Linked DNA regions of Homo sapiens: region 2 is linked to region 1. A link means that fine-mapping ties the variant in region 1 to the expression of a gene that starts in the linked region. Tissue or cell type: whole blood. Region 1 holds a variant in brackets; the other region holds the start of a gene. All regions are shown on one strand. Distances are from middle to middle.

Evidence for each region. PIP is the estimated chance that this variant, and not a neighbour inherited with it, causes the effect.
Region 2: KSR1 starts here. The variant in region 1 is fine-mapped to the expression of KSR1 in whole blood (INTERVAL, PIP above 0.99).

What each region holds. Positions count from the first base shown.
Region 1 is chr17:27,526,718-27,534,819 of GRCh38, reverse strand. All of the region lies in intron 1 of KSR1 (kinase suppressor of ras 1), which reads right to left. It also overlaps the pseudogene MSANTD3P1. Among named protein-coding and RNA genes, the nearest start is that of KSR1, 74 kb to the right of the region's middle. RefSeq lists a silencer at 1,744-1,929. The variant G/A (reference allele first, on the strand shown) is at 3,779.
Region 2 is chr17:27,451,722-27,459,813 of GRCh38, reverse strand. It overlaps KSR1 (kinase suppressor of ras 1), which reads right to left and starts at 3,366. Exons shown (of 21, transcript NM_001394583.1): 1 at 2,940-3,366. The coding sequence starts at 3,170. RefSeq lists silencers at 2,507-2,556, 3,077-3,836 and an enhancer at 3,200-3,701.

The DNA of each region.
Region 1 (8,102 bases):
CAGCTCTGGGAGGGAGAAAGAAGGCAAGACCACCTTCTCTAACAAGCAATGGCTAAAGACAACGCAGTTATCCCCCTAGGCCCTGTGCACCTCAGGCAACACAGCTGTAACTGGACTCACATTACTAGCACTATCATTAGCGGGGGATGAGAAAGGGCTCAGGCAACAGGATGCCGCTGCTGTATAATCCCAGGAATGCCAGCCAGGGGCAGTATAGTGATGGATAGTCAGGTGCTGGGGCCTAGAGGCCAACAGACCCGGGTTCAAATCCCAGCTCGGCCACTGACTAGCTGCTTTAACTCAGATTACTTAACCACCCTCTGCCTCAGTTTCCTTATCTGCAAAATGGGGGAAGAGGGGGATGTCTATTGCTGAAGACATCAGGCCTGCTATAATAGATTAACACTCATTGTCAGCCATCTCTATCATGAAAATTCCAGTCTCTTGTACTCTTTGAAAGCAGTTAGTCTGACTTGTTTATTGCTTTAAGATTCTTAAACACATTCCTGGATGACTCCATCTACATGGCATGTCCCAAGCTACCCTGGTGTATTCCTTGAAAATGGGCAAACGTAGACAAGGCCAGGCGTGGCTGGAACACACTCACACTGAAAGGATGGCTTTCCTGGCCCTTACTTTATTCTCAGGTCAAGAGCTGGGCACACCCGAGCCAAACTGTGCAACACGAACCTCTGAGCACAGTCTGTGCAGAAGAGGGAGGCAAACCAGGATGGGTAACAAGATGCACACAGCCTGAAGAAGCAAGCCGAGGAGAGGCCTGGCCCCCAGGCTGCAAGGGGAGCTACTCTCCAGACCTGGATAGTGGTGACATGGCTGAAAAAGACACACACACACGTGCGCACACGCACCTGTCACCTTGGACAAGCTCTAGCTGAACAGGGTGGGGATGCATCTCAAAATAAAGAGAGGCGGTATGCTGCCAAGCTCTCAAGAAATCAACTGACCACCCTTATTGAAGAAATTAGACAATGACAGCTAACTCCAACAAGGGTGACTATTATGCGCTAGACACTGCTTTAAGTGCTTTATGCGTACAGACAGCCCTTAGGATCTGTGGGTTCTGCATCCATAGATTCAACGGCAGATCAGAAATCTTTTTAAAAAAATGAATGGTTGCGGCTGGGTGCGGGGGCTCACACCTGTAATCCCAACACTTTGGGAGGCCGAGGCGGGCAGACCACAAGGTCAAGAGATCGAGACCATTCTGGCCAACATGGTGAAACCCTGTCTCTACTAAAAATACAACAATTAGCTGGGCATGGTGGTGTGCATCTGTAGTCCCAGCTACTCGGGAGGCTGAGGCAGGAGAATTGCATGAACCCGGGAGGCAGAGGTTGCAGTGAGCCAAGATTATGCCACTGCACTCCAGCCTGGTGACAGAGTGATACTCCATCTTAAAAAAAAAAAAAAGAATGGTTGCATCTGCATCTGTACTAAGGGGGCTTGAGAATCTGTGGATTTTGGTATCCTCAGGGGTTCCTGGGACCACTCCCCCATGGATACCAAGGGACAACTGAATTAACTCACTTAATCCTTGCAACAAACCTGTGAGAGACGCCCTATCACAACTATCCCCATTGTACAGAGGCGTAAACTGAGGATGAGGAACAGTCCCATGTCATGCGGCTAGTAAGTGGCAGAGCAAGAAACTGAACCCAGGAAGTTCAGCTGCTCAGCCCATGCTCTTAACCATGGGCTACATTACTTCCTTAAATGACTGAGACTTTTGGGGTGCCTACTGTCCATCAGGCCAATGCTGGGCATCTTGGTACAAATGTTCTCATTTATAAAAAAGGACTCAGAGGGTCAGGAAGCCAACCCAACGTCACCCAGCTGGTATGTGTCAGAGCCAACTTAAACTCATAAGAGGCTGATGCCCCACGCTGCCCCTCCAGGCTTGAGGCGCTGGGTCTGACCTTCCACAGTTTGAAGGCTGACCTTTCCCACTGTGCTCCACCAGCAGTGATGCAGATGGAGACATCACTGACCCAGAGCACACGAATACTGGTGAGGAGCCCCAGGGATGCTCTGCCACCTGATCAGAAGGAGGCCAGAACCTTCCAGAAAGCCTGTTGGAAAAGCAGCGCCTGGGAGAGAGTCCACCAGCTCCAACCTCTTTCCTAGCACAGTCCTCTCCTCCACAGCTGCCTGTAAGCCACATCCTACCCCGTCCCACCCGCTGACAAAGAACCAGAGCGAGGGCCTCCTGCTAGTTCTCCAGTTGCAAGGGCTCTCTGTGTTTAGCTTTCTGATGTAACAGCTCGAAGCGGAGATGCACGCACTCACTGTTGCATAAGACCCGATTTCGCTCACACAAACCTCAGGGCAAGTCAGTCTCAAGTGCTGCGGGCTGGAGCACAGGGTGGCCTCACAGAGCAGCCCGTACCTGAAAGTGCTCTGCCGCGCAGGACAACACATTCCCAAGGAGGCCAGTTCTCCCACGGCCTGTTCCCAGGTGACCCAGCTACCATAACCCTCCAGGTGGAGGATAGCTCACCCGCACTGAGAAAAACCGGGCAAACCCCACAGGGCTCTGCATCTCCTGCCCTCTGACCTTTGCAATTGGCCCCATCTAAGGACCACGTCAACCAGTGAGGATTATTAGCAGGACCAGACCCATCTTCAGATGTCTGAAATGCCTTTAAATTACAAAATCCTTGGATGTTCTAAGACAAGAAGGGCCTAAGGTCATCTCACAGAAATAGATGAAAAACTGATGAGGAAACTGAGGCCCAGAGAGGGACAACGACTTAGTCAAACTCACACAAAGTAGAAGGCAGTGCCAGGACGGTCTCCTGGTTCTGTCCAGCACTCTTTCCCCCATACTGGATGGCAGAAGTCCTGGGTTCAACCTGCTGTGAGCGAGTGGTCTAGCTGGTAACGCTGGTTCCCTATTTTTATTTAACAAACAGGGACTGTTTTGAGAAGTGTATAAAATGCTAACTCATTTCATCTGGGGAGGTGGGTGTTATTACTATCCCCAAGTGGAGATGAAAGAGAGATAAAGTAACTGTCCAGGGTGGGAGGTGAACCTAGGCAATGTTACTCCACCATCCAAACCTGAGCCTTGAGTGCCACAGTGGCCTTTGTCACTGCAGCTCCTCAGGGCGCTGCTGGCTATATGCTGAAGTGCTCTCTGGAGCTCAACAGCATGCCCCAAGCAGCTGCTCAGAGGAGCAGGGCTGAAGCCACCTCCAGCACAGCACACATCTCAGCAGCCCCACAGGAGGGGTTCTCCCCCAAGCACTCGCCCACAGAACACAGGGGCCAGATCTTCCATGACGGATCCGAGTGTGGGACCAGGCAGAAAATGGACTCAGGTATTCACTACACCCCCTCCAGAGACCTGCAACATGTGACCAGGGCCACCCCCTCAGCTTACTGTCAGGGGAAAAGGTTTGCCAGGCAGCCCCTTCAAAGGCGTGGCCTCCCCGTCACCTGCACCTTCTGTAACCCTGGGCCTGTGAGGCAGAAGGGGGCCGCCCTGCAGTGCCAAGGCCATGACCCAGCAGGCAGGACTCTGCACCTTTGTGCACAGCCTCCTCGAGGTTCAACATCTTGAGCTTTCTTCCTGAAAAAGGAAGCTGTTTCTCAACATATTGCTACACATGGAGACTGAGAAACACAAACCGAGAGGCGAATAGGGCACTGGCCCCAAGGGAGGAGAATGAAGCGGGGAAGGGCTGGTATGGGCCAGTCTGCCTGAGGTAACCAGCCAAAGGGACAAGGAAACGCCCAGCACAAACTTGTCCATCCC[G/A]ACATTGTTTACAAGAGGGACACAGTGCAAACAACCCAAAGCCCCAACAATGGAAGCACAGCTAAGGAGGTGATGGTAAAACCACTTACTAAACTATGACAGAGCCACTGAGCAGGTTTACAAAAACATAGGAAGTTTTTTGTGTTATTTTACTAAGCGACAGGCAGGACAAAAAAATCTACATGATGGATGGCAAGAACTACGTAAGCAAAACCTCGCACACAAAGTCTTTGCCTGGAAAACACAACTGAAAGAAAACACAGCAGAAATGTCATCTGTGAATGGGCTGATCTGAGTGGGAAGGCTATAGGTAATTATTTTCTTCCTTCTACTTTTCTGTGTTTTCCAAATGTTCTCTAATTACTGCGTACTGATTTTATAAGGCTATGAATGGGAATAATACATTTTAAAATGTCACAAGAGGAAAAGGGAGGGTGCTGGTGCTTCTCTTCTAGCAAAGGGAGAAAGGTCCAGGAGCCCACGGTAGACGTACTATTTGGAGCCGATCCCTGCTCAGGCCGCCATGCCCAGCCTCACCACTAAGGTCGGCTTTGCTGGTTACTCCATCTGCCCTGCTGGGTCTTTTTTTTTTCTTTTGAGACAGGGTCTCACTCTGTTGCTTAGGCTGGAGTGCGGTGGTGTAATCACGGCTCAGTGTAGCCTCGACCTCCCAGGCTCAAACGATCCTCCCACCGCAGCCTCCTGAGTACCCGGGACCACTGCCACACACAACTACACCCAACTAATTTTTGTATTTTTTGTACAGACAGGGTTTCACCATGTTGCCCAGGCTGGTCTCAAACTCCTGGGCTCCAGCGATCCACCCACATCAGCCACCCAAAGTGCTGGGACTGCGCCCAGCCCCTGCTGGGTCTTTAGATGGAGCAAAACCTCACTGATTCCAAAGGCAAAGATGCGGAAAGGAAGAGAGCAATTTCATAAGGTGGCATTAAACTCATTTTGCTGACGGGTGTGGGATGGGTTGGTTGGTTTGTTAAGAACAGTGTGTGTCCATCTATCCATCCATTCAAGAGTATCGAGTACCCACTAGTTACCCAGTATGGTGCCAAGGCCCTGCAAACAACACAGAAATGAATGACCCATCTCCTACCCTAAAGACCTCAGATTCAAGTGGGGGCCAAAGATATCAAGTTGCAATGCAAAAGTGTCTTTGACAAGGGTTTTCAGATACACACAGGCTGTGAGAATTCAGATATGAAAATTAAAGCTTCCAGCTTCAGAGAAAAGACGGGTGTCGGGAAAGAGTTCATGGAAAAGATGAGCTTTGAATTGGGTCTTGAAGAATGACTGGGGTTGCACAAACAAGTCAGTTAAACAGGCCAAGGAAATATACATGTTTATCTCAAAGGAAAGTTACCTCTGCCGGCAACCATAACAAACCTCCCACCTTAATAATAAGCAAGGAAATACAAAATGGAAACATATGGGCAGATGTTTGGCAACATTGGCAGAGGGACTCCCCAGTGTGGCTGTGGCAGGAGCATGGCAGGAGCGTGGAGCGGCATCGCCCCCCTGGAGGGCAGCAGAGAAACAGGATGATGCAACAGAAGCCTCACCAGGTGGCCCTCACCCCTTGAGCCAGACTCCACTTCTAGGAATTTATCCTAAAGAAACAATTAAGTGTAAGCATAAGCCTATTCACGGAAGTGTAACTTAAAATAGCCAAACATGGGGAAGTAGGTAACTACATTCTGGTGTGTCAATCACAGAACACTATGAGGCAACTTTTTTTTTTTAAGTCCCTTTTAACAGTGTACTTAATCATATGAGGCAATGCCCATAATCTTCTAGAAAGTTAACAACTCAAGGTAAGAAAACTACATTTGCAGTATGATCTTCACATATCTTTTTTATTTTAATTTAAGGCATTAATTTTCTTTTTTCAACTTTGAGGTCAATTTCTATTTTTATAGCAAAATTAACATCTCAAAATGTAAACACTGGAAAGTTTTATTATTTACTTTTTTGTATTTTTAAAGAACGGGTGTCATTTTTATAATCATAAAATGTTATCCAAACTGAAAGAATAATAAATGGAGTTTTTTTATCCAATAGGTTTTTGGGGAACAGGTGGTGTAAGTTTTGTTTTGGGATTTTTGTGGTTTTTTTTTCCAGTAGAGACAGGGTCTCTCTTGTCACCCAGGGTGAAGTGCAGTGGCATGACCGTAGCTCACTGCAACCTCACACTCCCAGGCTCAAGCAATCCTCCCACCTCAGCCTCCTGAGTAGCTGGGGTTACAGGTGAACACCACTATACCCAGCTAACTTTTTTTATTTTAATTTTTGTAGAGGCAGAGTCTCACCATCTTGCCCAGGCTGGTCTCAAGCTCCTGGGCTCAAGAGATCCTCCTTTCTCAGCCTCCCAAAGCACTGGGATTACAGACGTGAGCCACTATGCCTGGCCCAGAAATGGAGTTTCAATAGGAAGAGAAGAGGACATCCTCAGCTTAAAAAAACAGCAGGAGCCAGAAGTGAAGAAGTACAGGTCTCTCCTGGGAAGGAGAAAGAACTGAACATCATGATTAGACAGAGCTGGGCTCACATACTGGATCCACTCTTTTCTAGCGGTGTGACCTTTAACAAATTACTGATCCATTCCTGAGCTTCAGTTTCTTCCAAAGACCAAATGTGTTAAAGACTAAACGTGTTAACTTGGCCAGGCACAGTGGTTCACACCCGTAATCCCAGCACTTTGGGAGGTTGAGGTGGGCAGATCACCTGAGGTCAGGAGTTTGAGACCAGCCTGGCCAACATGGTGACACCCTCTCTCTACTAAAAATACAAAAATTAGCCAGGCATGGTGGCACGCACCTGTAATCCCAGCTACTCAGGAGGCTAAGGAACAAGAATTGCTTGAACCCCAGTAGGCAGAGGTCGCAGTGAGCCGTGATGGCACCACTGCACTCCAGCCTCGGCAACAGAGTGAGACTTCATCTCAAAAATAATAAAAAACAAAATAAATGCATTAACTTACACAGAATACCTACTCGATACACTAATTAGGTCATAGCCTTTTCTACTGACCAATAAAACAAATTCCATCCTGGATGACCCACAAGAGGTAGGGATGTTCATTTATGAGACACATAATCAATGTAATAACAGCATTTGGGGAGAGCAAAGAATTACTACATTAAAGACATCGTACAAAGCCTCCCAATTTCAGAAATATTAAACTATGAAATATATCCTAAAATCAAGAAACTATGAAAATTTGTGTCTTCTAAAGATACTGCTGACCAGGATAAAACATTTGGTGAAAGCCCAAGATATTATTGTTTTTCTCATGATTCTTATACAGTCTGATTTGTGCCCCAAACAAGAAGTCAGGCCGGGCATGGCTCACGCCTGTAATCCCAGCACTTTGCGAGGCCAAGGTGGGTGGATCACTTGAGGTCAGGAGTTCAAGGCCAGCCTGGCCAACATGGTAAAACCCCATCTCTACTAAAATACAAAAATTAGCCAGGCTTGGTGGCTGGTGCCTGTAGTCCCAGCTACTCGGGAGGCTGAGGCAGGAGAATCGCCAGGAGGCGGAGGTTGCAGTGAGCCAAGATCACGCCATTGCACTCTAGCCTAGGTGACAGAGCAAGACTTTGTCTCAAAAAAGAAAAAAAAGGGGGGGGGGGGGGCGGGTGTGCCACTGCAGTGTCTCCTTTTGTTATCCAGGCTGGAGTGCAGTGGTGCAAACATGGCTCACTGTAGCCTTGACCTCTTGGGCTTAAGCAGTCCTCCTACCTCAACTTCCCAAGTAGCTGGGATTACAGGATAGCTGGCGGCCAGGGGAAATATAGTGGAAAATGCAAAACAATGAAATTATAAAACCTGCCAAATACTTCTCAGAACTAGAAAAGAGTACCCTGCTGATTTTAGTAGAAAAGTACAAATATGTGCTGGAATGTAAGAAAAGTGATGTGTGAACTATTGCCCTTAAGCAATCAATGTACCTGCAGGCGCTGACCCACGAATGCAACTCTCAGCCGAGCTGTCCCTGCCGGATTTCAAACAGCTGAAGAAGGGCTGGGAGAACATCAAGGCTTGGACTAAAACAATTATGGCCCATGAAAGGAGAGAGAAGGTGAAAGGGAGCGTCAGCCCCCTCCTGAGTAACCAAGTCCTAGGGAAGGAGATCACCAGCATGCTGCTGGAGCAGCTCTACTTCCTGCAGAGCACTCCTTCCACCCCTCCCCCCGGAGGAGGAGCCCAAATACCACGCCACGGCCCAAGAATCATTTGCTGTTTCAAATAGAGAACTGTGCGATGATGAGAAAGAGTTCATACGTTTTCCAACACGTGAGAGGACCTC
Region 2 (8,092 bases), 75 kb after region 1:
ACAACCCAATTTCAGGCAGCAGCAGCCCATCCCTGGTCAGGGACCTCCACGGACATTTCACGTGCTGCTTCTCCCACTGAGTGTTTATTTAATGAAGGCCAGAGTGAGCTGGGGCTCCTCAGATTCTAGATAAGTCCGATGCAGTTGCACAGGCCAAGCCCTCCAGGTCAGATCCTTCTTCAAAAGCCAGGAATCCAGTGTTGCAAGCACAGTCTCTGGGGCCACGGCCTGGTGTGTGGGGAGCCCACAGAACAGGAAAGAACGCTGGAGTGGACACTGCCACTTGCCTGCCTGGCCCCAACACATGCTGCTGGCGGTGGACGGTCCCACCCAGCTTGCTGAGATTGTTTCCTGGCTTGTGTCACCCACCTGTATGAAATGAGAGGCAGCTGCAGAAGTACCTTTCCCTAAAATCCAGATTTACTGAACCCATAAAGTAGGGGGTTAAGTTTCCCTAGCAAGGGTCCAGTAGGGGTTAAGTTTCCCTAGTGGTGGCCTGTGCCATAAATGCTACTGGACCCTCACTAGGGGCAGCTGCCAGGCAGACTCTTTTCGTAGTATCAGCACGGACTGACAGACAAAATGCTGCAGGTGTGAGCAGTCTCGTTCCTATTTTACAGACAGGAGAGCTTGAGATTCAGAAGTCATGGGACTTGCCTAAGGTCACACAGACAGAACCCAGGCCCAGTATGAAAGCCATGGGGCTTCCTATTCACCACGCTGCTCCTATGGCAAAGATTCTTCTAATAAACTTAACCCCTATGTTATGGGTTCAGTAAATCTGGATTTTAGAACCATTCTTAAAGAGGGTTATTCTTAAACCAGGGTAGTATAAAAACAATCACAAACATTTGATTTCACCCAACCAAGTCTCCTTCTCTAACCTAGAGAATTTCGAGCTTCCAGAGCCCTCAGAGATCCACTCCAGCCTCCTTGTTTTGCAGGTGAGGAGGCTGAGGCCTCCGGGATGAAGTGACTCATCTAAACTAGCTGGTGGCAGCCCCATGGAACTCACTCCAGGGGTCTAAATTCCCATCCCCCAAAACAACCCAGGCCCTGCCTTTTCAGGAAGTGGAGTGAACCCGAATCCACATCACGGTGGGAAGAACAGGGAGCTGCAGATCCCCTGTGGGCCTTTGGATGGGTTCTCTGCTGCCAGGGATGATCGTCTAAACAAACACTCAGGAGGGAAGCCACTGAATAAACCAGCTCCAACACTTAAATAGCTGGATGCTCTGGGGTGTCATGAACGCCACACTGCCATCAAAATGAGGGACTCCGGAAGTTAGGGTAGGACAAAAGGCCATTCCAGAGAATGCACAGCAAGTGGTTCTCCTATATACACACTCTGGAAGCCAGGAGCACTTCAGAGCAACGTGGGGACAATCCCACAGAGGCCAACACAGAGAGCATTCTCCAAGCCCAGCAACACCGAAGTCCAACCACGCACACTCTGCCAGACAGCGACCCCTCCTCCCGGAACTGAGCCTCACAGGCCCCCTATTGTTGTCAGCTTAAAAACTGAACTTTGCTGAGCAAACACACTCAGCTGTGTTCAAAAAATCAGTTTCTCTCAATACTTGGAAAACTGCAGCATGCATGCAGAAAGGCCAGTTGTAGGGGGTTTTGTTTGTTTTTTAAGCAAAGCCTTGGTCAGTACAGCTTTAGCCAACTGTAATAAAAAATAATAATACCCAGCACTGACTGTATTCTTCCAATGTCCTGTGGTTTTATAGCTTTTAAGAAAATAAAACTGAGGGAGAGTCACCCCCGAGCATTTGGAATCAAACAAGGATTCGGCTTTGTGGCATGCCTGGAGGAAGGATTGGTCTTGTAATAATTACCGCGATCACAGAGGGCCTTATGACAGCTGGCAGAGGCAATTAGCAATAAGGGGCGGGGGGAGGGTTTGGGGGAGGAGAAATTGAGGATCTAATAAAACAAAACATCCCCAGACCTGCAGGAGGCCAGATGTGGCAGGGCAAGATGGTGAGAGGTTCCTTCTTCAAGACGGGGCAGCTATTAACTGGTCTGACGTTTCACCGCCCCGTCCCTGGCCAAAATCACATTCAGAATCCACTAGTTGCCCTCATTTGTGTATGGACAGGGTGCCCCAACAACCCTCGGGCTGGTTTTTCCAAATCCTTCAGATACTTCCCCAGCTATAATTTGAGAGAGGAAGGCCCGCATATCTTATTTCTTCTTTACACTCCAGACTGTCTCCATCAGAACCCTTTAAACAGTTTCATCTTCCCACCAAAGGCTTGCTTCCCAGCATAATCCTTCCTAAGCCTAAATCCAATCTTTGGGGGGAAGCAGGGGGAGTCAGCGGGTAATTATTAATACATTTTAAGCAGCGAGCCTCCGTGGCAACGTGAAAGGAAAGCACCAAACGCCTGAATAACAAAAATGCAGTTTCAGCAACACTTTTTGAAAAGGCGGCAGACAAGACCTGAGAGGAGAGGAAAGGAAGGGACAGGACGGCGTCTGGGGCGTGAGGGGAACAGGGGACGGCAGGCCTGCGATCACGCTTCAGGGGAACCTCCTCCGTCACCCTGGCCCACGGGTGCTCGGCTCAGTCACACGGGGAAAAGTCCAGCTTGTGACTCGGTGGGACAACGAGTCCTGCGGCCCCGCAAACTGGAAATGGGGTGGGGGCGGAGAAGGGGGGAAAGGGGATGTCCGCGCGCAGCCCACCCCGCACGGGCCCCTCGAGCCTCCATCCCAGTTCCCACGACGCACCCGCCCCACAAATCCTGCCCAAGATGAGGGCTGGTCCCGGGTCCTCCGGCTGCCGCATCAGCGAGTGCAGGAGGGAGGGGAAGCCTCCAAGGGGGGCGACGCGGGCTCAAGGATGCAACTCGGCCAGGAGTACTGGGGCCCGGAGGGAGGTGTCCGGGCCCGCTCCTCGAGCCCAGCCTGGTCCCCGACCCACTTACCTCCAGGGTCCGTATCTCCTGCTGGGTGAGGTCGTTGGACACAGCGCACTTGGTGCGCAGCCCGCGCAGGCTGCCGATGGAGATGTCGATGAGCTTCTGGAGCTGCCCGCACTGCTGCAGCGCCCGGCTGGCCGCGGCCCCTGCGCCTCCCTCCGCGGCCGCCGCATCCCCCCCGCCACCGCCCTCCTTCTTCTCTCCCATCGCCGCCGCGCGCAGCGCTGCTCTATCCATGCCTCGGCATCGGGGCCGCGGCGGCCGAGGCTGGGAGCCCGGGGCGCGGGCGCCTCGGCAAGGAACCCCCGAGCCAGGAGAGCTGGACCAGGAGCGCCCCTCGGCGCTGCCCGAGCCGGGACGCCGGTAGAGCCGGCCGCTGAGTCTGCCGCTTCCACCCTCCCAGCCGCGGCAGCAAAGCGAAAGCCGCGGCGACCCGACGGCTGCGGCTCCCGGAGCCTTTAAGCGGCGGCGGGGGCTGGGTCAGGGCGGCCGGGCATGCTGGGACTTGTAGTCCACGCCGCGCACCTGCCGCCGGCCTCCGCCCTCGGGGCCCCGGACCGCGCCCGCGCCGCCCTCCCTGCCCTCCTCTCCCCTCCCCTCCCGGCGGCCGCGGCGAGGCAGGCGGTGAGGGCCGGCCCCAACCGGGAGCCCCGGGTGGAGCTGCTCCGCGCCAGCTCCTCCCCCAGGCGCCGAGAGTCGGGGGAGCAGCGTCTCCCCGTCCGCCTCCGTCCCCCACCCGGCCTAGGAGCTTCCCGCGACCCCCGGATGGGGCGGCGCCCCCTGGACGCCCGGCGGGTGTGCGTCCCGCAGTTCCTCAGCTGCAGCCCAGCCCTGGAAGATGGGGACCAGGGAGGTTCCAGGATTTGTATGTGGGTTTAGGGGCTGCCATCTAGTGGGAAGGGGCTTACAGCACTTCTGTAGCTGGCTCACAAAGCGCTCTACTCTGGACTGCCTGCGCCAAAACGATTGCTCAGGCTTGGAGAAAGACGAAGAGCTTTCTTCTGAACCACATTTACCTGCCAAAATAAGTGTCCCATTCCCCCGCCATTCCCAGCCCACCAAGCCAGCCCAGACACGGGGGACAGCACACTGAATTGTCGGTGGCTTCGGAGCAAGTGGCCAGGATTCAAATTCTGACTCCACCACGGTCTAGGGTGAGACTTTGGGCACGTTCGATTTCCAGTGAATGCCCGACTCTCCTCATCAAATAACTCTTTAATAGGGTTCCTATGAAGAATCAGTTAATACATGTACAGCACCTAGATTGATTACTGGCACATGTGGTCGCTGGATAAATGTTAGCAATTCTTACTATCTAACCTCAGATCTGAATGTGGCCCTGGACCCAGGTAGTGGCCATGGAGCAGTACAGTACTGCCAAGGACTGGTAGTCCTTTGTCCTCTGTGCATTTCTGTGCCTCCTAACCCAGCAATCAAGCCTTGCCCATCTGTTCACCCTCCTCTCCCATTAGTTCACCCCATGCGTTCTATTATCTGGCAAAACTGAAAAACCAAGTCTCTGATCAAAGCTCCCACACCTTCATGCTTTCGACATCTGTCAACCAGAAAAAATGTCTCCCCTCTCAATTTTCTCTTGTAAGCTGCTTGATTGCAGAAGCCACTAGCTATTGTACCCTCTTTATAGTGCCAGATACAGTGCATGGCACACAAGAAAGGCTCCAGCGTGCCTCAGGAGCTCTTTCAGCAGGTCCTATGGGATGTTTCTTTTACCTCTCAGGCCAGCCGAGGGTGTGTGTGTGTGTGTAGATAGACAGTTGTTTTTTTGGTTTTGTTTTTGTGTTTGAGGATGAGAATTGGACAGGAGGTGGGATCCAAACCTTGTAGACACTAAAACAATCAATAATGGATGGCAGTTTGTATTACACCTTCCTTTAATGTTTATATTACACCAGCCTTCGAAATAAATTAAGGGCTGGGCACCGTGGCTCATGCCTGTAATGCCAGCACTTTTGAGAGGCCAAGGGGGAAGGATCACTTAAAGCCAGGAGTTCGAGACCAGCCTGGGCAATGTGACAAGACCCTGTCTCTAAAAAAAATAATAAATTTTTAAAAATCAGGTCTAGGAAGCAAAACTATAACTTTAAAACTTGTTTTTGCAAATTAACCCCTCCTCGAGATTTTCCAAATGCAAGGAGGTTCCTCCCTAACCCCTGGCCTTTCCCATTGAGAGTCATTGATCCAGTCCTCACTCAACTTATAAAAAGACCGCCTGCACGATATTATGAATTTCTCAACCTGTTACCTTAACCCCATCCGACTCCTTGCAAAGTAGTAACTATTATGAAAGGGAAACTAGTTGTGGTTCTCAAACTTGAACATGCATCAGAATCACTTGGAGGGCTTGTTAATTCCCAGAACCATGGAGCTCACCTCTATAGTTTCTAATTTTGTAGATCAGAGGACAGGGCAGGAGAATCTGCATTTCTATCAGGTTCTCAGGTGGTACTGATGTGGTTAGTCTGAGCCCAGTCGCAAGTCTATACTTTGAGAAGCCTAGGCACAGAGGAAGGTCAGTGGGCAGAGAACTATCTCAAGGGACTATCCACAACCCAACCTGGCTGGTTCAGAGCCTCTGTCCAGCAGCCAGAGCTGCCAGGCTTGAACGACTCACTCATTCTAACACAATTCACAAAAGATTTTTTTTTTTTTGAAACAGGGTCTTGCTCTGTCACTCAGGCTGGAGTACAGTAGCATGATCATGGCTCAGTGCAGCCTCGACCTCCCAGACTCAGGCGATCCTCCCACCCCAGCTTCCCAAGTAGCTGGGACTATAGGAGTGTGCCACCATGCCCGGCTAACGTTAACTTTTTTTTTTTTTTCCTTTTTTTTAGAAATGGAGTCTCTCTACGTTGCCCAGGCTGCTGGTCTCAAACTCTCGGGCTCAAGCAATCCTTCCCCTTCAGCCTCCTGAAGTGCTGGGATTATAGGCGTGAACTACCATGCCTGGCTCACAAGAAATGTTCTGGTAAGTGCCTATTTATGCACTTACATCAAACTTGTTATTGCCACAGGGACCTGGTCATCACATTCTCCCTCTAGGGCCACTTTATGTGGGAAGCCACATCCTGAGAAGAGCCACTGCCAGCTTGTGGCATTCATGCCCACCCATGTCACCACAGGGGTGATGTCAGAGCCTGAGACTGGACAAATGCCAGCTCCCTGGTTACTCTCCCGCCAGGTTCCATGCAGCGAGTCTGTCCTCTGTGGATACAGTCTTCCCTCTGATTATCCAGAGCATTCAGCAGGCCACAGTTTTCCTTCCTCACAGATGGCCTCCAGCCTTCTTGCCTGGATTTGAGTCATCTGTCAGCCACAAGTTTACAGAACTGCCCCTCAGAGGTGGAGAAACTTTTTTGTTTTTGTTTTTTGTTTTTAAGAGACAGGGATTTGCTCTGTTGCCCAGGTTGGAGTGCAGTGGTGCGAGAAAGCTCACTGCAGCCTCAAAAGTCCTGGGCTCAAGCCATCCTCCTGCCTCAGCCTCCTGAGTAGCTGGGACTACAGGTGCCTGCCACCGCATCTGACTAATTTTTAAATTTTTTGTAGGGACAGGGTCTTGCTGTGTCATGTAGACTGGTCTCAAACTCCTGTTCTTGGCCTCACTCTCCCAAAAGTGCTAGGATTACAGGCATGAGCCATGGCACCTGGCCGAAATAAGGATTTTTAAATAATCCCTTCATTCATCCTTTTAACATTCAGTAAGCATTCATGAAGTGCCACTTACATGGCAGGCCCTGTTCTGGGCTCTGGAAAAGGGTAGTGAACAAAATGAAGATTCTTACCCTTAGGGAATTTATGCTGTGGTGAGAGGAAACAGACAAGCAGATAAATGCACAGTGTGTCAGTGGTAACAGGTGGTATGGCACTGCAGGGAAGGGGACAGGGAATATGGCCTTTACAACTTCGAATAGAGCTGTTTTAGAGAGTAGGGTAGTCAGCTCTGTCTCTGAATCGCTGTATGACCTTTGACGAGTCTTATATGACCTCGGGCAAATCTCCTAATCTGGTAGCACAGCTTCTTATTTGCAAGATGGTGATAATGTTTTATGAGGATGAACAGATTATATAACACAAAGTAATGGTCATAAAATAAGGGTTCGGCATATTTATTTATTTGATAAATATTTACTGTATGTCTACTGAAACTGTTCCAAATGCTTAACTCATTGAACTATGCATTACTTTCTTCCTCACCTTCCAGAATGAATCTCTTCTAGTTAGATGAATTGATCTATTATGTGTTGATTCAGGGTTTCAGCATCATCTCCAGGTTCTTGAGGCTTTTTCTGAGGCACCTCAGTAGAGAAAGTTTGCTTACTCTCTCCTTCCTCTCCTCTGTCTCGGGTCCCTTCATTGCTTTTCCGAGCTTGTCTGCATCCAAACACCAACAGCAGCGGTGGGAGCATTTTCATGCACAGGCCCAAGAAACATGAAGAGGACACTTAGCATGCGCCAGGCTCTGGGGTAGGCTCAAAGCGAAGGAAGCCGAGTCCTTATCCCTGTGGAACATACATGAAGGGAAGGACAGGAAATGAATGTCAACAAATATATTACCAAAATAAACTGAGAATCATAAGTGCTACGCAGAAGAAGAAGAAAGCAAATAGCCGAGAGTCTCTGGTGGCTAAGGTACTTCACTAGGTGAAGTGGACAGAGAATTATTATCTGACCATTGAACTAAGATGTAAATAAGGAAAAGCAAGCCATGTGGAATGTTCCAGGAAAGGAGCACTCCAGGCAGTGGGAACATCATGTGCAAAGGCCCTGAGGTAGGAGCAGCTTGGCATACTCCAGGAACAAAGTGAAGGCCAGAGAAGCCATAGCAAGATGAGGGAGAGGAGCAAGGGCTGGAGATGATGTGGGAGAGCTATGCAGGGGCCAGATAAAGTGGGACATGGGAAGGAAGTTTGGGTTTTTCTCCAAGCCTTTGTTACTCCTAATGCGGTCCAGGAGCAGCAGCAACTGTATGGCCTGGGAGCTTATTAGAAACGCAGTCTTGAGCCCAACCCCAGATAACTGAATCACAAACTGCATCTTAGCAAAATTCCCACATGACCCAAAAATAGATTAAATTTTTAGAAACACGGTACTCTAAGAAAGTCACGTTCTTTTCAGGTGGAGAGTTTTAAAGATCCCTCAGG